Linked DNA regions of Homo sapiens: regions 1 and 3 are each reported to be linked to region 2. Evidence: microRNA targets listed by miRTarBase, many of them from high-throughput screens and not tested one by one. Region 2 holds a microRNA gene; each other region holds the end of a gene's coding sequence.

The links. Region 2 holds the annotated microRNA hsa-miR-6855-3p (AGACUGACCUUCAACCCCACAG, at 4,180-4,201, shown strand). A microRNA usually pairs through its seed, bases 2 to 8, with sites in the 3' UTR of a target mRNA and lowers its output. Matches are read on the target gene's strand: a 7mer-m8 pairs with bases 2 to 8, a 7mer-A1 pairs with bases 2 to 7 and ends in A, and an 8mer does both.
Region 1: miRTarBase lists RFC5 as a target of hsa-miR-6855-3p. Seed matches in the 3' UTR shown: 7mer-A1 at 6,463-6,469.
Region 3: the mRNA of CYP4F11 is a reported target of hsa-miR-6855-3p. Seed matches in the 3' UTR shown: 7mer-A1 at 1,696-1,702.

The regions. Positions count from the first base shown.
Region 1 is chr12:118,030,747-118,037,844 of GRCh38, reverse strand. It overlaps RFC5 (replication factor C subunit 5), which reads right to left. Exons shown (of 11, transcript NM_007370.7): 11 at 5,611-6,663. The coding sequence ends at 6,567. WSB2 (WD repeat and SOCS box containing 2) reads left to right here. Exons shown (of 9, transcript NM_018639.5): 6 at 1,335-1,507; 7 at 2,521-2,631; 8 at 2,752-2,859; 9 at 3,487-5,158. The coding sequence ends at 3,649. Among named protein-coding and RNA genes, the nearest start is that of RFC5, 18 kb to the right of the region's middle. RefSeq lists enhancers at 2,113-2,162, 2,173-2,232.
Region 2 is chr9:129,865,471-129,872,589 of GRCh38, forward strand. MIR6855 (microRNA 6855) reads left to right here and starts at 4,135; the gene lies at 4,135-4,201. It overlaps USP20 (ubiquitin specific peptidase 20), which reads left to right. Exons shown (of 26, transcript NM_001110303.4): 11 at 2,535-2,979; 12 at 3,392-3,532; 13 at 3,840-3,955; 14 at 4,202-4,374; 15 at 4,983-5,077. RefSeq lists an enhancer at 4,750-5,249.
Region 3 is chr19:15,907,210-15,914,307 of GRCh38, reverse strand. CYP4F11 (cytochrome P450 family 4 subfamily F member 11) reads left to right here. Exons shown (of 12, transcript NM_021187.4): 11 at 1-3; 12 at 399-1,931. The coding sequence ends at 576. It also overlaps the pseudogene LOC729654. Among named protein-coding and RNA genes, the nearest start is that of CYP4F2, 13 kb to the right of the region's middle.

The DNA of each region.
Region 1 (7,098 bases), not on the chromosome of region 2:
AGAAATCCAAGAACAATTTGAGAACAGTTCTGTTTGAATTTTGTGTTGCGTTGAGTCACTTGCTGTGACTGAAGGGAAGGTTGAGAGTTCACCATTTGGTACAGCCCAGGTGGTTCATCATTTATTTTTGTGGTTTGGAGGGTTTTCTTTTCTTTTCTTTTCTTTTTTTTTTTTTTTAGACAGAGTTTCGCTGTTGTTGCCCAAGCTGGAGTGCAATGACGCAATCTCGGCTTACTGCAACCTCCGCTTCCCGGGTTCAAGCGATTCTCCTGCCTCAGCCTCCCGAGTAGCTGGGATTATAGGCGTGCTACACCACGCCTGGCTAATTTTTTGTATTTTTAGTAGAAATGAGGTTTCACCATATTAGCCAGGCTGGTCTTGAACTCCTGACCTCAGGTGATCCGCCCGCCTGGGCCTCCCAAAGTGCTGGGATTGCAGGCGTGAGCCACCGCGCCTGGCCTGAGGGTTTTCTTAAAGGAATAAAAATAAAATCCTCTTAATGCTTCTCACAAAGGTTTAAAGTGATGAGCTAGGTCAGAGGCCCAGTCTTGGGACAGATTTCCATGGTTCCATACACAAGGTGGGGGGTGTAAAATGCCTTGGCAGCCTGCCACTACTTTGTGGGGTGGCCGCAGATTTCACTTCTGACCCTTTAAAAAAAATTTGAGACAGTCTTACTCTTTCGCCCAAGCTGGAGTGCAGTGACGTGATCTCAGGTCACTGCAACCTCCACCTACCAGGCTCAAGTGATTCTTCTGCCTCAACCTCCCAAATAGCTGGGCTTACAGGCGTGCACCACCATGCCTGGCTAATTTTTGTATTTTCAGTAGAGATGGGGTTTTGCCATGTTGACCAAGCTGGTCTTGAACTCCTGGCCTCATGTGATCCACCCACCTCAGCCACCCAAAGTGCTGAGATTACAGGCATGAGCCATCGTGCCTGGCCGCTGACATTTATTTTTAAGTGGAATAAGATAGCACTTGGCTCAGGTCTTCATCAGCACATACGACTACCCTATTGGCAAACAGGACTCAGAAGCAGACTCAGAAGTCTCTGCACATGCGTTTCAGCAGGGGTCTTCCTAAGGCTGATCTGGTTTATTCTCTCTTATAGTGAGCTCCTTGAGCATGCCCATTGTTTTAAATCCTCAAGAATCCAGACCAGTTGCCTTATTTAAACCTACACCACACGTTCTGGAAGAGCTGTAGAAAAGGGATAGAGAATCAGCCCTGGCTGCAGGGCCTGCAGATTTGGTGGTGGTACCTTTCCCTCCCTCCGTTTGAGTCCTAAGCACTTTGCTTCTGCCCTAACCAGGCACTTCTTACTTTCCACAGGTCTTTCTATGGAGCATGAGGTCCTACACGTTAATTCGGAAGCTAGAGGGCCATCAAAGCAGTGTTGTCTCTTGTGACTTCTCCCCCGACTCTGCCCTGCTTGTCACGGCTTCTTACGATACCAATGTGATTATGTGGGACCCCTACACCGGCGAAAGGCTGAGGTCACTCCAGTAAGGACTGAATCCCTGCTATGACTTTTTTGTGGGGGGACTGATGAGGAACCTGCCTGGGATTAGACATGTCTCTTTTAGAATCTGGGACATGGGAGGGGACAAGCTGGATAAAAAGGCACAGTGGGTCTCTTTTGAGACGGAGTCTCGCTCTGTCACCCAGGCTGGAGTGCAGTGGCGCAATCTTGGATCACTGCAACCTCCACCTCCCGGGTTCAAGCGATTCTGCTGCCTGAGCCTCCCGAGTAGCTAGGACTACAAGCGTGCGCCACCAGGCCTGGCTAATTTTTGTATTTTTATTAGAGATGGGGTTTCACCATGTTGGCCAGGCTAGTCTCAAACTCCTGACCTCAGGTGATCCACCGCCTCAGTCTCCCAAACTGCTATTATAGGCATGAGCCACTGCGCCTGGCCTGGTTCATTGCTTCTTAGTGATGCCTTGTCAATTAAGCCCTCTCAAGTAGCTTTGAGTGTCTTCCAGTCTCCTGATTCAGGTGGCTGTGTGTACTTCTTCGGAATCAGCATTATGAAGCCTCAATATGACTCTTTATTTCCATTTACTAATAACTGTAGTAACAAGTTCAGAAAGAGCCTCTTATCGAAACTGTGCTTTCCAAAATGAGTTTCATGTTCTCACAAACTTGGTCTCCTTTTTCCTTTTGTGTCTGTTGTTTTATGAAGCAAATAATAGGCAGTCCTATAATTATCATGTATCTTAGCCTAAAAAAGACTTGCAGTTTCTACTGTGGCATTAAAGTGAGGGCTGACCTACTTTGCATAAGCAAATTAGCACAAGGAAGTGTTAGTAACCCTTCATCCACAGGACACCTGGAGCCTTCTGAGATACCCTTTTTTTTCCCAGTGTGCAAATCCCAAGCTTTTCCACGAGGGGCACACAATGCATCTTGAGCCCTTTTGTAGCCAGGGCAGTTTGGCTTCCTGCCTAGGGTGATGATGGAGGGTGGAGAGCAGCCATCACTCCAGGCCTGCCATCCTGTTTCTTTCCTTCCCAGCCACACCCAGGTTGACCCCGCCATGGATGACAGTGACGTCCACATTAGCTCACTGAGATCTGTGTGCTTCTCTCCAGAAGGCTTGTACCTTGCCACGGTGGCAGATGACAGGTAACGAAGAGAACTCTCTTTACATGGCCTCAGAACAAGTGCTTGCAAGTAATGGCAGCAAGGCCCTCTTGGTCTGGCCCTGGGTCAGCTAATATCCAGATGTTCTCTCTCCCCATCCAGACTCCTCAGGATCTGGGCCCTGGAACTGAAAACTCCCATTGCATTTGCTCCTATGACCAATGGGCTTTGCTGCACATTTTTTCCACATGGTGGAGTCATTGCCACAGGGTATGTATTTGTTAGCTGAACAGATGGGTGGTGCTTTCTGCTGAGTATACCATGGAGCTTTTTAAGGAAAGAAACCATCTAGAATTTTCTTGCCTATGAGGAAAGCTTTAAGGCAATTCAAGATTATATAAAACTCAAATGATCGATTTTGCTAATAACGGTGTCCCATTTTCTCTGAATATTTAACCTAAATGTAATTAAAGATCTGTAAGTCATGCCACCTAATGGGCCAAGTTCACAAGGGAGAATAAAATTGAGATGATGCATAATATATGGGAAACCATTTAGGGCTAAAAGACCACTTTACAGGTAACATCTATAATTCAGTAGGTGGCACTCTTCCCCCTTATACTTTTGAACTAACTGTGGTCAGATTTAGAAAGGGCTGTGCCGAGAGAGAGACAGAGAGAGCGCTTTGGTATCACAGGTGTCTTGAGTTTTTCTAATCCTATCAGCAGCTTTAATTATTCAGCACCACAATTTTACATCCATTTCCACAGTCAGGGTTACATTTCACTCTCCGAAGTCTCCTGCTCTTTGCAGTCAAAACAGAAACATGAGTATTCATCCTCATGAAAACATGAACATCCAAGCTCTGTCTTAGCATCGGTTTCTGTTTCATTTTAGGACAAGAGATGGCCACGTCCAGTTCTGGACAGCTCCTAGGGTCCTGTCCTCACTGAAGCACTTATGCCGGAAAGCCCTTCGAAGTTTCCTAACAACTTACCAAGTCCTAGCACTGCCAATCCCCAAGAAAATGAAAGAGTTCCTCACATACAGGACTTTTTAAGCAACACCACATCTTGTGCTTCTTTGTAGCAGGGTAAATCGTCCTGTCAAAGGGAGTTGCTGGAATAATGGGCCAAACATCTGGTCTTGCATTGAAATAGCATTTCTTTGGGATTGTGAATAGAATGTAGCAAAACCAGATTCCAGTGTACTAGTCATGGATCTTTCTCTCCCTGGCATGTGAAAGTCAGTCTTAGAGGAAGAGATTCCACTTGCACGGCAACAGAGCCTTACGTTAAATTTTCAGTCCAGTTATGAACAGCAAGTGTTGAACTCTTTCTGCTTGTTTTGATTCAAAGTGCAGTTACTGATGTTGTTTTGATTATGCAACTAAGTAGGCCTCCAGAGCCTCTCTAGTGGCAGAGCAGCTCACACTCCCTCCGCTGGGAACGATGGCTTCTGCCTAGTACCTATCCTTGTGTTTCTGATGCAGTGGTAGCATTGGTTCAAGTTCTCTCCTGCTGTGGTCAGAGTTGCTTCGATGTTGGCCAAGTGCTTTTCTTCTTGGGCTCCCTTCTGACCTGCAGGACAGTTTTCCTGGAGCCATTTGGTATGAGGTATTAATTTAGCTTAACTAAATTACAGGGGACTCAGAGGCCGTGCTCCTGACCGATCCAGACACTATTACTGGCTTTTTTTTTTTTTTTTTAACAATGGTGTGCATGTGCAGGAAATGACAAATTTGTATGTCAGATTATACAAGGATGTATTCTTAAACCGCATGACTATTCAGATGGCTACTGAGTTATCAGTGGCCATTTATTAGCATCATATTTATTTGTATTTTCTCAACAGATGTTAAGGTACAACTGTGTTTTTCTCGATTATCTAAAAACCATAGTACTTAAATTGAACAGTTGCAAAGATGTCTTAATTGTGTAAAGAATTGGTGTAGTCATGACTTTAGCTGATACTCTTATGTACGAGATCTGTCTCTGCTGTTTAACTTCATTGGATTAATCAGCTGGTTTCAACTCTACTGCGAAACAAAAATAGCTCCTTAAAAGTACTGTTCTCCTTCAGTGGCATGTAGTTATCTAATCAAGACACCTCATTCAAACAAAACCTGCCTTAGGAAAATTTAATATATTTTAAATTATTTTAAAAGAAATACAACATCTTATTCTTTAGCTTTCTTAATCGGTGCTTTATGGAGGCCAGTGTAACGTTACATGACTCGTTGAGAAAGTTGAGGAATTTCCTCTACCACCTTTGTTGCTTGAAGAAAAACATGTCTTTTCAAAATGAGAGGCTTTCATTGAAGAAAAGAAAAAAACAACAGTTAAAAGCTTTTGGCTCTCTGTTTCATTTTTTTCCATTAAGAAAAAAAAAAGTCCCCTTTTAAAACAAGCAGGGCTGGGTGTGACGGCACATGCCTGTAATCCCAGCACTTTGGGAGGCTGAGGTGGGAGGACTGCTTGAGCCCAGGAGTTCAAGATCAGCCTGGGCAACAGAGTGAGATAAGACCCAATCTTTATTTAAAAAATAAATAAATAAATAGCCAAAAAAACTTAGTGTGGTGCTGGTGTGCATGGTAGCCCCAGCTACTCAGGGGGCTGAGGATGTGGTGGCATTTACCTGTGGTTCTGTGGTTCCGGCTACTCAGGAGGCTGAGGTGGGAGAACTGCTCGAGCCTGGGACATGGAGGCTGTAGCGAGCCACGATCGTGTCACGGTATTCCAGCCTGGGTGACTGACAGAGCATGATCTTGCCTCAAAAAATAAACACATAAAACAAGTAGTACAGCAGAAGAGCTGGGAATGGATTGGCCAACGTTTACATTTCATGGTTATCTTGAAGTTCCAGGTACAGCAGATGCTGAGCCTCTGGGTGGTTTGAGGCCTGGTTGGCCATCAGATATTTAGCTTCATACTTTGCCGCTGTCCTTAAGGGGGTGAGTCCTCCATGAACAAAGGGAATAGTGACTTTTTCCATTTGACAGTTTAAGAATTTGACATTTTATAAAGAACAGCATCTAAAGAAAGTTTATTCTGTGATATTAGAGACAGAAGGTTTTCATATAAATGCAAGTTTGACAAAGTCAGCATCTTTCTAGCTGTCTAAGGAAGAGTCACTTGTAACACAGCCAGCCAGGAGGCTGCTTTGTTTTTTATTATAAAGAACACTAACACAAATGCAGCATGATTGCTGTAAAATAAATGTGAAATTTGTACAAAAGTCCCAGTCCTTCCGCAGTTCTAGGTTTACAGTCAGGCTCAACCTTACTTGCCCCGCTCCTGCATGAAAACAAGTGCGTTTTATACAGCCTCTGCCACCCAGTGGCATAGTTTAAGGCTCTATATTATATTTAAAATTAAGGTTTTTTTCCTATCATACACATCAATTTGGAACCTGCTGGTGACTCTTCTACCACAGAGGGTAAATAAAAAGACCAGTTTTTAAAGTAAGAGGATTCAGCTCATCTTATAAAAGTATAATAGTTTCGGCCAGACGTCCATTAACATCTGTTTAAATTAGATACAGACACAATGCCAAATATTAGAATCATAAATGTAATTTTGGAGATAATGTTTACCTTGAGTAGGAAGACACTTGGACCATATTAAATTTGAAAGTCTTCTGTTCCAGACCAAAATGGGGTAGGCTAATTCCCTGTCATCCAAGCAACTAAAAGGTAAAAACCTTATAACTTTAAAATAAAAAAGGTTATTTTTTTCCCCTATAAAAGACAGGCAGTATGAGTTAATACATTAAAATTATTTTGTACATCCCTGCTCCAAACAACCACAAAAATGGTACTTTTTAAATGCCTGCCCATCCTCTCCTGGAAGGGGGTTTTTCCAAGATTCGGGGTGACTGATTCATCCCACAGCCCCAGGCAGCAGTTTATCCTGGAACTGTCCTCTGTTCTCCCATCACTGCTGAGCCCTGAGAATTGTGAATGGCCCTCAGAGCATCTAGGCCTCTGCAACAATCAGGTCTCTGGTGACTTGAAATGCAGCAATGAGGGAGCTCAGCTGGATCTTCTCGTTGGTGCCAACAGAAAGCCTGTACCTAACAGAAACCAAACACAGGGTAAGAAAAAAGACACCAAACACAGCTGCCTTTTCTTAAGGGACCAAGAGATCTAGGGCTGAAAATCTGTTGAAGGAGTGGGGATGGGAATTGATAGAACAAATGTGCCCTGGATGGCAATCTTGTATGTGTCCCCCTAACATTTTCTTCTCTGCCCTACACATTGATTTATAAATGTGATGTTTCAAACTTGTAAGGACCGATTCAATTTTAAAAATTATTAGGTATCAGGCCGGGCGTGGTGGTTCACACCTGTAATCCCAGCACTTTGGGAGGCGGGCCAATCACTGGAGGCCAGCCTGGCCAACATGGTGAAACCCCCGTCTCTACAAAACAAACAAACAAAAAACAAAAATTAGCTGGGCATGGTAGTGCATGCCTGTAATCCCAGCTCCTCAGGAGGCTGAGGCAGGT
Region 2 (7,119 bases):
GGCAGCTGAGCACTGGTTGGCAGGTCTCACGGACCAGGCTCTCACTCCTAAGCCCTTCACACGTGTGAGGACAGTGGAGCCTCCCAGCAACCTGCTGACATTTAACCCCACTTCACAGATGGACAGACTGAGGTTCAGGGGCCGAGCCACTTGCACAGGCCACACAGCTAGTAAATGGTGGAGGGGAATTCTTTTTTTTGTGGGGGAGGGTGGGTACAGGGTCTCACTCTGTCACCCAGGCTGGAGTGCAGTGGTGCAGTCATGGCTTACTGCACCCTCGACCTCCCGGGCTCAAGCAGTCGTCCCACCTCAGGCTCCGAAAGTGCTGTGATTATAGGCATGAGCCACTGCACCCGGCGGAGGGGAGATTTGAACCCAGGCAACCTTGCTGCAGGGCCTCCGCGTTGCACCCAAAATGACACAGGGTTTCATTTCCCCAAACCACAGGCAAAATTTCACTTTTATTAAAGTAAAAAGTTTGATTAAAAATTTTTTTTAAATCTAGAGAACCCTTTTGAAACCAATCACATTTTTCTATTTTATAAAATAATGAGACCAAGACAGAGTGCAGCCACGCGTACACCTCAGCCCCGGGCTGATGGCTCCTGCCCTCCAGCCTCCTGCCCCAGATGGCCCACAGCCTGGGCTTTCATGCCAGGCCTGCAGGCAGAGCTGGACCTGGCTGGGTCACCTCTTGTGCTGCCTGAAATGAGCACCATGGACGGAGTGGCAGTCATGTGGGGACAACTTCCGCCCTCTACCCCCTGCCTGCTGTCCCGTCCCAGGATGAAGTCTGCTGGGCCTTTGGCTCCTGCTTGAGAAGCTCAGCACTGCCTGGACACCTCTCTTTTTGGGGAGTGATAACATGCACAATGACTAAAATTCACTGAGCACCATTTAAGTGGTCACAACTTAGTCCTCATAGAAGTCTCACAAAGTGGGCACTGTTGTCACCCACACGTTACAGGTAAAGAGCTGAGGCTCAGAGAGGTTCTACCCCTCACCCAGGTCACACAGCACATCCTGGCAGAGATGGCATTCAGGCCTACCTGAGCCCATCCCTCAGCACAGCACCACCCTGACTGTGTGCAAGGCGCCCTGCCGGCTTTCAGCTCTGGGTCAGGATGCCGTTACGGAGGGCCATGCGCTGCGGCAGGACTCCATCTGGGCTCCGGCAGAAGCATCCCTTTCTGTGGTTTTAGGATATCGTGTGGGGACACTTCTGAGGCTGAACTGTAGACGCAGCTGCGGGCGCCTCTTAAGGGCCAAAAGACTCTTTTGTGCTTCTGCATGGATTGAGATTTTGGCAAGGAACACATAGTACTTTTGTTGAAAGGAAGAACCAGAAAGAGAAGTAGATGGCAGATTGAAAGCCTCTTCTTGAAAGGGCCTTTGATCGTGCCTGCCACAGGACACGTGTCCCCTCCCTGATGCAATGTAACCTCGTGGTTCATTCCTCTGATCTTGGAGCCTGACACTTTGCCTTGGGGAGTCCCTCCTGAGCCCTCCCTTCCCTGCACATGAGTGGAGAGAGCCGGGATCCTCTTCCCAGATGTGTGACATGAGGCTGGCTCTGGCTGCTACGTGACCCCTGCCTCCTGGGGATCAGAGCCTGGGCTGAGGGCTGCTTCTAACAACCAGGTCAGGGACTGCTGGGGCTGATTTGGGCTCGGAACCCAAGTCCTTCTCCAATGCCCAGCACCACCCGAGCACCCGCTAGCTGCTGGGGTCTGCTGCCACCACCACGTTCTGACCTCCCAGTGCACCCCCTGTGTGAGCACACAGATCTCAGTGGGGCTCACTGGGCGCCTCTGCCCGAGCCCCTGCTGCCTTGGCTTCCTGCTGTGCTGGTGGCCCAGTCACAGAGTGGTCAGGATAAAATGGTCATTGCTGGGATTTGAGACCCAGGCAGCCTGCAGGGGCAGCTTAGACTGAGTCATGACCAGGTCTGTGGGAAGGTGAGAGCAGGCAGTGAGGGTATGTGGGGGCTGGCACAGGGACTGAGGGAGCAGGGGGAGCCAGAGGAAGGGTAGAGCATGCAGGCAGTCTGGCCTGTGGGTAGCGTGGCTTGGGGCAGGACTCGGGTGAGTCCTCTTTTGGCATCACACTCCCTCATCCTTCCGCCACCCCCCTGCCCACCTCCACTGGTCTCATCTGTAGGGAGAAAGGTGGCTCGGGCTTAATGTGGTACTGCCTCTCTGTCCCTCCCGTGCTGAGCTTGCAGCAGAGGCAGGAGATTCAGAGCCGGAGCCGGGGAGTTGCATGGACCCAGGTGCATACCTGGCTCTGACACTTTCTAGCTGTGTGTCCTGGTAGGTGTCCTTTAGCCTCTCCAGTCCTCACTGTTATCCTCAGAAGAATGGGGTTAGGACAGACTGCCATGGGAGGCCGCTGTGGGGGTGAGCAACTCTTCTGCAGGGGGCGCCCATGAGGTCCTCCTAGATGGAGGCTGGCGCTCTCATCAGCCACAGGGCGCTGGAGACTGGTTCCTCCTGCCTCCAGGGGAGCCCTGTTGATGCAGCCCCTGGTTCTAGGACACCCAAGAGTTCCTTCGCTGCCTGATGGACCAGCTGCACGAGGAGCTCAAGGAGCCGGTGGTGGCCACGGTGGCGCTGACGGAGGCTCGGGACTCAGATTCGAGTGACACGGATGAGAAACGGGAGGGTGACCGGAGCCCATCAGAAGATGAGTTCTTGTCCTGTGACTCGAGCAGTGACCGGGGTGAGGGTGACGGGCAGGGGCGTGGCGGGGGCAGCTCGCAGGCCGAGACGGAGCTGCTGATCCCAGATGAGGCGGGCCGAGCCATCTCTGAGAAGGAGCGGATGAAGGACCGCAAGTTCTCCTGGGGCCAGCAGCGTACAAACTCGGAGCAAGTGGACGAGGACGCTGATGTGGACACTGCCATGGCTGCCCTTGACGACCAGCCCGCGGAGGCCCAGCCCCCGTCACCACGGTCCTCCAGCCCCTGCCGGACGCCAGGTATCAGCTGGCCGGGGACTGCGGGAGGAACCTCAGCCTATGGCCCAGTACCTACCGGGTGCTGAGCGCCGACCTGCAGTAGCCCCCGGGGGACGGGTTCTTCACTAGACCCGAATGACAGTGGGGAAGTCAGCCTCCGGGGGGGCTCAGTGATGTGCCCAGGGTCCCCTAGCTCATAATGCTGGAGCCCAATTCAGAGCCCTCTCCCAGAGCCCTGAGCCTTCCAGCCGGACATGGATTGGACAGGTCTGCTCCGGCCTGTGTGCTGGGGCCAGGAGTGGGCACATGACAGAGGAGACACATTAGGGTCAGGCTTTCGTCCCTTTAGGAGGGGCTGGCAGGTCATCTTCCTGCCCACTCGTGGAGCTGGCCTGGCTGCCCTGGCCCAGCATGGTACCCTCTCTGCCCCCAGAGCCGGACAATGATGCTCACCTACGCAGCTCCTCTCGCCCCTGCAGCCCCGTCCACCACCACGAGGGCCATGCCAAGCTGTCTAGCAGCCCCCCTCGTGCAAGCCCCGTGAGGATGGCACCGTCGTACGTGCTCAAGAAAGGTTCGGGGGGCACGGGAGGGTGGGTCAGCTTGAGGCTGGGAGTACAGATTACGCCCGTAGCTGCCTTTCTCATGGCCCCCTGTGGCGGAGGGCCGGGCTATGGGCTCCTCTCAGGTACACCCCTGAGACACCAGTGTGGGAGCCACGTTTTGCAGAGGATGACACAGAGGCATGAGATGGTGAATTGCTTACCCAGTCATGTGACTCACGGATGTCACTCCACATCCTGTCAAAGGAAGCCGCAGGGCCCGCACCTCGCCCCGGCCAGGCAGGTGGAGGCTGGGCTAGTCCTGTGCTGTGTCCCCAGCCCAGGTATTGAGTGCTGGCAGCCGGAGGCGGAAGGAGCAGCGCTACCGCAGCGTCATCTCAGACATCTTTGACGGCTCCATTCTCAGCCTTGTGCAGTGTCTCACCTGTGACCGGGTGGGTGCCCCAGGGATGGGGGGAGCTGGGCCAGGCTGCCAGTGGCCTCAGCAGCTCTTGCCCTGACTGGGTGCAGGGTGGGCTCTCCACGGGTGCTCCCTGCTTTTATCCAGGGGAGGGCCCTGCCTGCGTGGATCCCGTGTCTATGGCCTGGGGAGTAGTCCCTCTGCCCCTCACCTGCTGCTTGGGGTTTGGGGTGCAGACATTGCCAGAGGATGGGCAGCAGACTGACCTTCAACCCCACAGGTATCCACCACAGTGGAAACGTTCCAGGACTTATCACTGCCCATTCCTGGAAAGGAGGACCTGGCCAAGCTCCATTCAGCCATCTACCAGAATGTGCCGGCCAAGCCAGGCGCCTGTGGGGACAGCTATGCCGCCCAGGGCTGGCTGGCCTTCATTGTGGAGTACATCCGACGGTGCGCCCACCTTGCCACTACTGGGCGACATGGGCTGGGCCTGTCCTGGTTTTCCTGGGCGGGAGACAGTACACAGTGAAGTCCATGCATTTGGGGAACCAGGGAGGTCCTGGGAGGAGCTGGGGGCCGAAGCCTGCAGAGGAGTTGGCTTAATATGCAGGGGATTTCTTGGCTACTTTGAAGTGGCCAGGATTGGATAGTCCCTTGGAGCTGGAGGGCGATGGACAGCAGGGAGGTGACCACATGGCAGGTTGAAGGGAGGGCAGCAGCAGGACACAGGCCTGGTTGGCGGGAAGGGCAGCAGCTTTCCCAGGGCTGCCTCTCCTGCCTGAGGCCAGAGACCCGCATGACCCCAGGGAGGGGGTAGCATGATCATGGCCGCAACACAGATGAAGGAGGCCAGGCTTGCGGAGAGATGATGTCACTCGGCCCAGGACACGGACGTGTCTGGCTCCAGGCCTCTGCCCCGACCCGCCGTGCCCGGCTGCTTCTCTGGGCCTTCAGGGTCCTTCTGCGGCTCAGGCCTGACAGACCTCAGCCAGAGTCCCTTCAGCTCCTGTTCTTGCCCAGGCCCTGGCAGCACCCCTGCACTCCTTTTCTGTCTGTAGGTTTGTGGTATCCTGTACCCCCAGCTGGTTTTGGGGGCCTGTCGTCACCCTGGAAGACTGCCTTGCTGCCTTCTTTGCCGCTGATGAGTTAAAGGGTGAGGGGCCTGGCTGGCAAGGGTCGGGGAGGTGGAGGGTTGTGGGGACGGGGATGTGCAGACCCCAGCAGGCCAGCATGCAGCCCAGGGCTTGTGGGATGCACAGCCAGGCTAGACTTGGCTTCCAAGGTTGATCCCATCAGATACCCACGCCCACTGCCAGCCACGCTGGACCAGGGCCATGTGCTATCCCAACCCCATCATCTTGCAGCTCTTGAGTGTTCACTTATTTTTATTTTTACCAATTTGGTGGGCAAAAATGATGTATGTTAATTTTTCATTTCCTTGATTACTGATGAGTTTCTACATTTTTTGTTAAATATACTGGCTCTATGTATTTATTTAAACATTGCCCATTCCTGTTCTTGTTCTTTTTCTCCGTTGGCTATTTGGCATCTAAACCTTTGGGAAAACTCTCTCTTTTTTTTTTATTTCCAATTTTCAATTGCGATAAAATACACAAAATGTAAAATTTACCACCATAACCATTGTAAATGCTGTTTTTAACAGAAAGTGCACAGTCGAGTAGTGTTAAATACATGCACATGGTCACGCAGCCATCCTCCCCATTCATCTCCAGAACTTTTACATCTTGCAAACCTGAAACTCAGTATCCGTGAAACAGCTCCCTACTCCCACCTCCCAGCCCCTGGCAACCTCCACATTCAAGTCTGTGAATGTGACTACTCTAAAGGCCTCATAGAAGTGGAATTATACAGTACTTGCCATTTTGTGACTGACGGCTTTTACTGAGCATAACGTCCTTAGGGTTCATCCACGTTGCAGCGTGTGTGTCGGAATGCCCTGCCTTTTGTATGCTGGTTATTTATTGTTCCATTGTGTGGATGGCTGGGGCCTTTCTGCTTATTCGTTCATCCGTCAGTGGACACTCAGGCCGCTTCCCTGTTAGCTATTGTGAGGAATGCTGCTCTGACCATGGGTGTGCACACCTCTCTTCTTTCATCCCTTTGGGTCTATGCCTATTTTTAATTTCTCGAGGAGCCACCGTACTGGGTTCCACAGTGGCCACCCCATTTCACATTCCCACCAGTGACGCACAAGAGTTCCAGTTTCTCCACATCGTCGTCCACACTCATTTTGTTTACTTTTTTGATGGGAGTCAACCTCATGGGTATGAGGTGGTATCTCATTGTGCGTTTTTTTTGTTTTGTTTTGTTTTGTTTTTGAGACGGAGTCTCTCTCTTGACGCCCAGGCTGGAGTGCAATGGCATGATCTCGGCTTATTGCAACCTCCACCTCCTGGGTTTAAGCGATTCTCCTGCCTCAGCCTCCCGAGTAGCTGGGATTACAGGCACATGCCACCACGGCTGGCTAATTTTTGTATTTTTAGTAGAATGGGGTTTCACCATGTTGGCCAGGCTGGTCTTGAACTCCTGACCTCAGGTGATCCGCCTGCCTTGGTCTCCCAAAGTGCTGGGATTACCGGCGTGAGCCACCGCACCCAGCCTCGTTGTGGTTTTGATTTGCATTTCCTAATGATAGTGATGTTAAGTGTCTTTTCATATGCTTGTTGGCCATTTGTAAGTGTTTGGAAAAACATCTATGTGAGTCTTTTGCCTATTTTGTTTTTTGTTGCTTGTTATAGGGATTCTTTTTTTTCTTGAGACAGAGTCTCACTCTGTCACCCAGGCTGGAGTGCAATGGCATGATCTTGGCTCACTGCAGCCTCCGCCTCCTGGGTGCAAGCAGTCCTCCCATCTCAGCCTCCCGAGTAGCTGGGATTATAGGCACGTGCCACCACACCTGGCTAATTTTTGTATTGTTAGTAGAGATGGGGTTTTGCCATGTTGGCCAGGTTGGTCTCGAACTCCTGACCTCAAATGGATTTGCTGCCTTGGCCTCCCAAAGTGCTGGGATTACAGGTGTGAGCCACGGTGCCGGCCTCGTTAGTTAGAGGAGTTCTTTATGTGTCCAGATACGTGACTTATAACCCTGTCCTCCCATCCTGTAGGGTGCGTTTCATTCTGTGGTTTGTGTCTTTTGCTTTGGTTGCCTGCACCTTTGGTGTTGTGTTTCAGAGA
Region 3 (7,098 bases), not on the chromosome of region 2:
CAGGTAAGGATGGCCTGTGTCTGAGGCAGAGATGGCATGATGGGTGCAGGGGTCCAAAAAGGGGGAAGTTACAGATGGTCCCAGTTCCAGCTCTCCTTCCCTCCCTTCCTCAGGAGTTCATGGGCAACTGTTCACAGAATGGGTTTGGGAAGGTCCTAGAGGGGTCTGCGGTGTGCTCAGAGTCCCCTCCTTCATCTGTTTATCTGAACTGGGGGTAGGAGCCTGGGCCAGGTTTGGGGGATATGCAAGCACACATGGGAGTCCTGTGGACACTTATCCCCTCTTTCTGCCCCTCAAGCCTATGTGGGTGCGTTTGGGGTCCCAGGCCAGGTTCTAAGCATGATGGGGCCGGGATGGGGGTCATGGGCACAGTCAGATTCCCTCACTTTTGCCCCCAGAAACTGCATCGGGCAGGCGTTCGCCATGGCTGAGATGAAGGTGGTCCTGGCGCTCACCCTGCTGCACTTCCGCATCCTGCCGACCCACACTGAACCCCGCAGGAAACCCGAGCTGATATTGCGCGCAGAGGGTGGACTTTGGCTGCGGGTGGAGCCCCTGGGTGCGAACTCACAGTGACTGTCCTACCCACCCACCCACCTCTGTAGAGTCCCAGAAACAAAACTATGCTGACACCTCTGCTTGAGCCTCGTTGACAGCCAGCATGGGGCTCCTGGGGACTGGTGGGATCTAAGAAAGGGAGGTGAGTGGGTGGAGGCAGGGTGACGTCTCTGAACCCAAAACCCTGACGGCCTCTCTGGCTGAGCACAGGGCATCTAGGCCCTTAGTGGGTTCTCCCAGAGCCCAAGTAAAAACTTTATCCTGTGGGCAGTAGGGAGCCCTGGGAGGTGTTTGAGCAGGAGAGGGAACAGGATTAAGAATGGGTTTAAGGAGCAAGACTGAGACTCTGATTCAGCGAGAAACAACCATAGGGGCAGATCCCTTCATCTGTCCTGGGAATGTCCTCCCAAGACTGGAGTCCTCAGCTCAGAACAAAGGGAAAGGGGTGCAGCTTCCACCCTGGCAGGCTCTCAGAAATTTTTAGTTCCTTTTTCCACCAACTTCCCACCCCTGTTTCTCCCCCTCCCAGTGCGTTCTCTCTGTGACTCTCTTCCCTTACTTTCAGAGGCATAGGATCTGGAGCCAGACTGCTTGGGCTCAAGTCCTGGCTCTGCTGCGTGACTTGAGCAAGTTAATTCCTCTCTCTGTGCCTCGGTTCCCTCAACCATATAATGGAGACAACAGCATTACCTATATCAGGGTTTTCCTGAGGTCTCAATATAAGGGACTCAGAGCTGTGCCTGGCACACAATGAATGCTAAATATATGGAGCCATTATTATTTCCTGTCTCAGAAAGTCTGGCTGTTAAAGAATGTTGTCTTTCAAGATCGTTATTTCTACCACGACTTTAAAGGCTGTGTTTTGGAACTCAAAGGCAAAAATTCTAATATCTGTGCTCCTTGAACAACCTCTTCTCCTAGAGGGCTGTGCATATAAGATATGTATATATATATATATATTATATATATATATATATACACACACACACACACACACACACACATATATACATATACACACACACACACACACACACACACACACACACACATATATATATATATATATTTTTTTTTTTTTCCTGAGGATGGTGAAGGTACCTGACTGTGTGAGGTGGTAGGAGAATGAGAGAAACCTCAGTCAGTGTCTCAAAATAAAATCCTGCTACAAACATTGATCTCTTTTCATAGCCTAAGGGATGTTGCATCGCTAAACCCTGTTGACTTCTCTAATCTCTTCTGTAGCTGATCTCCTTCCCTTGCTACACTCGGTTACTCTGGCCTTGATTCTGATCTCCAAATACATTATATTTTTTATTTGGGACCATCGTATTGCCTTTGCACCTTTATCAAATATAAGTTGCCTATATTTATTTGGATCTATTTTTTGGGCTTTTAATATTCTGTTCCATTGACCTATTTCTCTTTTCTTTTACCAATACCGCAACATCTTGGTTACTGTAGCTTCACGGTAAGTCTTAAAACTTGGATATTGTCAGTCCTCCAACTATGTTCTACTCCTTCAATATTGTGTTGGTTATTCTGAGTCTTTTGTCTCTCCATATAAATTGTAGAATTAGATTGCTGATATCCATAAAAAAACTTTCTGGAGGGCCCCAGGGAGCGCGGGGCGCCGCTGCTGCTGCTGCTGCTCCTCGGCTGGGTTGTGTCTACTGGGCCCGCGGCTGCGGCGGCAGAGGGGCCTGAGCCGGGAGCCGCGCTCAGCCGAGAGTTGGGCAGAGGGAGTGCCCGCGCCGCCGCGGCGTCATGGGCCCCCTCCCCTCACCTCAGCGGGCACCAGCCGCGGGAACCCCCGGGCCTCCTCGCGCCCGAGCCTGAGCGACCCCTGGGTTCTCCGGCGCCCCCTCCCTCCCCCTATTTTTCTTTTCCTGCTCTTGCTGACCCTACCGCTTCTGTTCTCCGTTATGGCAAGAGAGCCACCATCCCCGCTCCGGGTCGAGGCGCCGGGTCCCCCAGAAATGCGGACCCCACCGGCGATCGAGGCCACCCCTAAGGGCACCCTGCAGCCGGCAGGCGGCAGACTCCGCTTCCTCAGTGGCTGTGTGCCCATCTTGCATCAGGTGGCCGGGCACAGGTATGGGAAGGACAAAATGGGTATACTGCAACATCCAGATGGCACAGTTTTGAAACAGTTACAACCACCTCCAAGGGGCCCAAGAGAGCTGGAATTCTATAATATGGTTTATGCTGCTGACTGTACCGATGGTGTTCTTCTAGAGCTACGACAATATTTGCCAAAATATTATGGCATCTGGCCACCTCCCGCTGCCCCAAACGATTTATACCTAAAACTGGAAAATGTGACCCATAAATTTAATAAGCCCTGTATAATGGATGTAAAGACAGGGCAAAAAAGCTATGATCCTTTTTGCCTCATCTGAGAAAATTCAGCAATAGGTCAGCAAGGACCCATTAATGGAAGAGATTGGGTTCTTGGTGCTTGGCATGAGGGTTTATCTTGTTCATTCCCATAGCTATGAGACACAAACCAACATTATGGAAGAAGCTTAACAAAAGAAGCTATAAAGGATGGAGTCTTCGGATTTTTTCATAATGGGTACTGCTTAATAAAAGATGCTGTTGCTGCCATTATTCAGAAGACTGAGAAAATTCTGCAGTGGTTTGAAAACCAGAAGCAGCTTAACTTTTACGCAAGTTCATTACTGTTTCTTTAGGAAGGTTCATCTCAGCCAATCACTACAAAACTGAATGACAGAAATTTGGCAGAAAAGTTTTTGTCCAAAGGACAACTGTCAGACACAGAAGTACTAGAGTGCAATAATAACTTTCATGTATTAACTTCCACAGTGAATGGAAAAATAGAGGCTTCAGTAGGCAAAAGCTTGTCCAAGATGTATGCCCATCACAGGAAAATGTATACAAAAAAGTATCACAGTCAGACTTCATTGAAAGTTGAAAATCTAGAGCAAGACAATGGGTGGAAAAGCATGTCACAGGAACATTTAAATGGAAATGTACTTTCCCAACTGGAAAAAGTTGTCTACCATCTTCCCACTGGTTGCCAAGAGACTGCTGAAGTGTGCATGATAGATATGGCTGATATGTTCCTTAGCAACACAGTAGATAAGGGATATGTTTATGGGCTAAAGCATTTAATTTCTGTACTTCGAAGTATTTTAGACAATTGAATCATCTGTTGCAGTATTTTTTTTTTTTTTTTGAGACGGAGTCTCTGTTGCCCAGGCTGGAGTGCAGTGGCGCGATCTCGGCTCCCTGCAAGCTCTGCCTCCCGGGTTCAGGCCATTCTCCTGCCTCAGCCTCCCGAGTAGCTGGGACTACAGGCGCCTGCCACCGCGCCCGGCTAATTTTTTGTATTTTTCAGTAGAGACGGGGTTTCACCGTGTTACGCAGGATGGTCTCGATCTCCTGACCTCGTGATCCGCCCGCCTCGGCCTCCCAAAGTGCTGGGATTACAGGTGTGAGCCACCGCGCCCGGCCTGTTGCAGTCTTTTTAAGAGGTGGGCCAATCATAATGAAGAGGAGCAGGCAATATCTCCGCACCTTTAATGCTATGCAAAAAATATGTATTGTGAGTCGACATTTTATTTGTCTTTATACTTTTGGAAGAAAGGTTAACTTTTTTATAATCTTACTCAGGAAAATATATGTTCATTAGAAAACTATGAAGAATAAAGAAACTTAGGAATGTTAAGCAGGGAATGTAGTGGTACATGGCTTAAACATCTTTTTTGGCTCAAGCAAAATGCAAACCATTATTCAGTCATTAAGAGTTTAGTTAGCTTTCTGTAACCAATTCATGAAATCTCTGTCCACCCAATTTGACAATGAGCCATATCTAAAATAATACATTATTAGAACACCTACCAAAATCTCAAAAGCACAGGTTGATGTCCTTAGTCTTGCTATGTATGAAGTTATTAAAACTGGAGAAAGTTCTACTTCAGAAATAAGTACTGCTTAGGTTTTATATTAAAAATTCAGACCAGCATATCAAAGGATGCTTCTTAGTGAAATGATTTAGAATTGCTGCATTCCAAAAGCAGGTTTTCTCTTTAATTTTTACAACTCTCTCTCTCTCTCAAAATATTATACTTCATGAAAAAGACAATTGACATGGATGACAACAAGAGTCTTGAAATTAAGGGCACACTCATTGTTCTTACCAGGGTTAGAAGAGAGAGGTTATTTTCAAGGAACAAATATTTTGCTTTACAACCTCTCGTTTATGAGAAAATTGGAATATAAATTTATTACATTGTGAAAAGTATCATAAACCATATACCTTTTTATCTAAATGCAGTTTCAAAAAAGTAAATAATTGAAGTTTTATTTCTCCTCTAAATAACTGGAATTTTTTTCTTTAAAAATTTATATATTTATATGTCCCCATTTAGTTAAGTGGTAGTGTAAATGTATACTGTTAAAAGTGGTTTCTCAGAATTATAGTAAGCAATGAAAGACAGTATCTAATTAGGTTGTTATCAAAAATACTATGTGTGAATAAGTCCATCATATAGGGCTGGTGTGTATCTAAATTCATGCTTCTATTTCACTGTTACTCAAAACAGTTTTATATTATGTTGAACAGTGAAATTATAATTTAATTTCATGGGGACGGGCAGTGCTATAGTTCCTGGAAAAATTAGATTTGTATTATCTTTATTTCACACCTACCACCTTAGAAAAATCAACTAGTTGTCATTGAAAACATTTAAAACTTTGAGTCTTCAAATACATTTGATGTTAATGCTGTCATTACTTGCACTTTGATTCACTAATAACATTTCTAGGTAGTTACCAGTTTTGTCATTTTTCTGGAAAATATTTTGGAGTTGTAAATTGTTTCTCTTTTTCTTCTAGAGTTACAAATTGAATTTTTAAATCCAAGCACCTTTGTTGTGGTGTGGAGAGAAGTATCACAATTTTATGTTTATTTTACCTTCTCAACCTTCTCTTGGGGTACTTTGCAAATACCTGAGTCTAAACAGAAGTACCAAATACATGCTCTATGAACTCTATCCTTAGTAAATCTATTAAACCTGAATAACTTAAAAGATCATGTGTGTTTTGTAATAGCAAAATTTGATTTTAATTTTTTATTTGGAATTGGTGTATTTATCATGGGGACTTCCAGTTTTTCTTCACTTTGCAAATGGATATTGGCTATAGTTTTATGTTTTAATGGGAATGAATTTCAAGTCAATTAATAATCAGAAAATTTTTAGTTTTACTTTTTTCTTTTACAATATGGACTTTTGTTGTTATTTGGATAGTAGTTCAATAAATCTTAAGCTCAGATAATTAAACACTATTTTGAATCTTAACAAGATACTGAGCATTTTTTTGTATGGGATGATATCAGCCTATGTACAATGAATTTAATAAACTTAAGTATTATCAGATATTTTGCACATTTTAGATCAATAAAATCTGAATTAACTGTTCAAGATTTTTTTATCTGTATTTGGAAATATAATTTTGTAAAATCAATGTCTTACCTTTTTATTACAATAGATCATGTTTTGTATTCAATAAAGCAAGAAGCCCTTTTATCTGTTGTTTTTCAGGGAAGGGAGTAACATTTAATTCTGTTTGTTTACATTTGTTTTCATTGTTATCCAATGCTCATTTTATGTTGCTTTATAAGTAAGCTTAGGTATAACAGAATAAGTATCTGTTTATCTAATCTACATGTGACTACTTTAGTCTCTCTCAGTCACTTAATATTATGCTGAAATTTACCACTGTGGGGATGAATGATCACTATCCAACAAGCGTATTTGAACATGTAAATGCTTAAGAAATAAGTATAATATGGATATAGTTTGGGTTAATAGTATTCTCATAGTTTTTTCCCTCTATGAAACATAAGTAATGATTTTAGTGTATTTCTTATGGAATACACTCATTTATAAAGGACTTTAAGAAATTGTGGATGTGAATAATATCTTTCTCTAGTAAAAATTTAAATTGTAAAAAAAAAACCCAAAACCTTTCTGATATTTTCATTGTGATTTCACTGAATCTATAGATTTAGTTGGGAAGAACTGACATCCTGACAATATTGAGCTTTTTGTCTTACAAGAAATGTTCAAGGGAGTCCTGCATCTGGAAGTGAAAAGAGGATCATTACCATCATGACAACATGCAAAAGTATAAAATCCACTGGCAAAGCAGATACACATAAGAGAAAAGAATCAAACCTTATTACTACAGAAAACTACCAAAACCACAATCGTAAACAATAAGAGAGGAAGAGAGGAATAAAAGATATACAAAACAACTAGCAAACAATGAATAAAATGACAGAAGAAGGTTCTTACCTATAATAACTTTGAATGTAAACAGATTAAATCCCCCACTTAAAATATATAGACTGGCTGAATGGATTTTTTAAATGACCCAACTATGTGCTTCCCATAAGAAACTCACTTTACCTATCAAAAAACATATAGACTGAAAGTGAAGGGATGGAAAAAGACATTCTACCCAAGTGGGAACCAAAATCAAATAGGAGTAGCTATGTTTATATCAGAT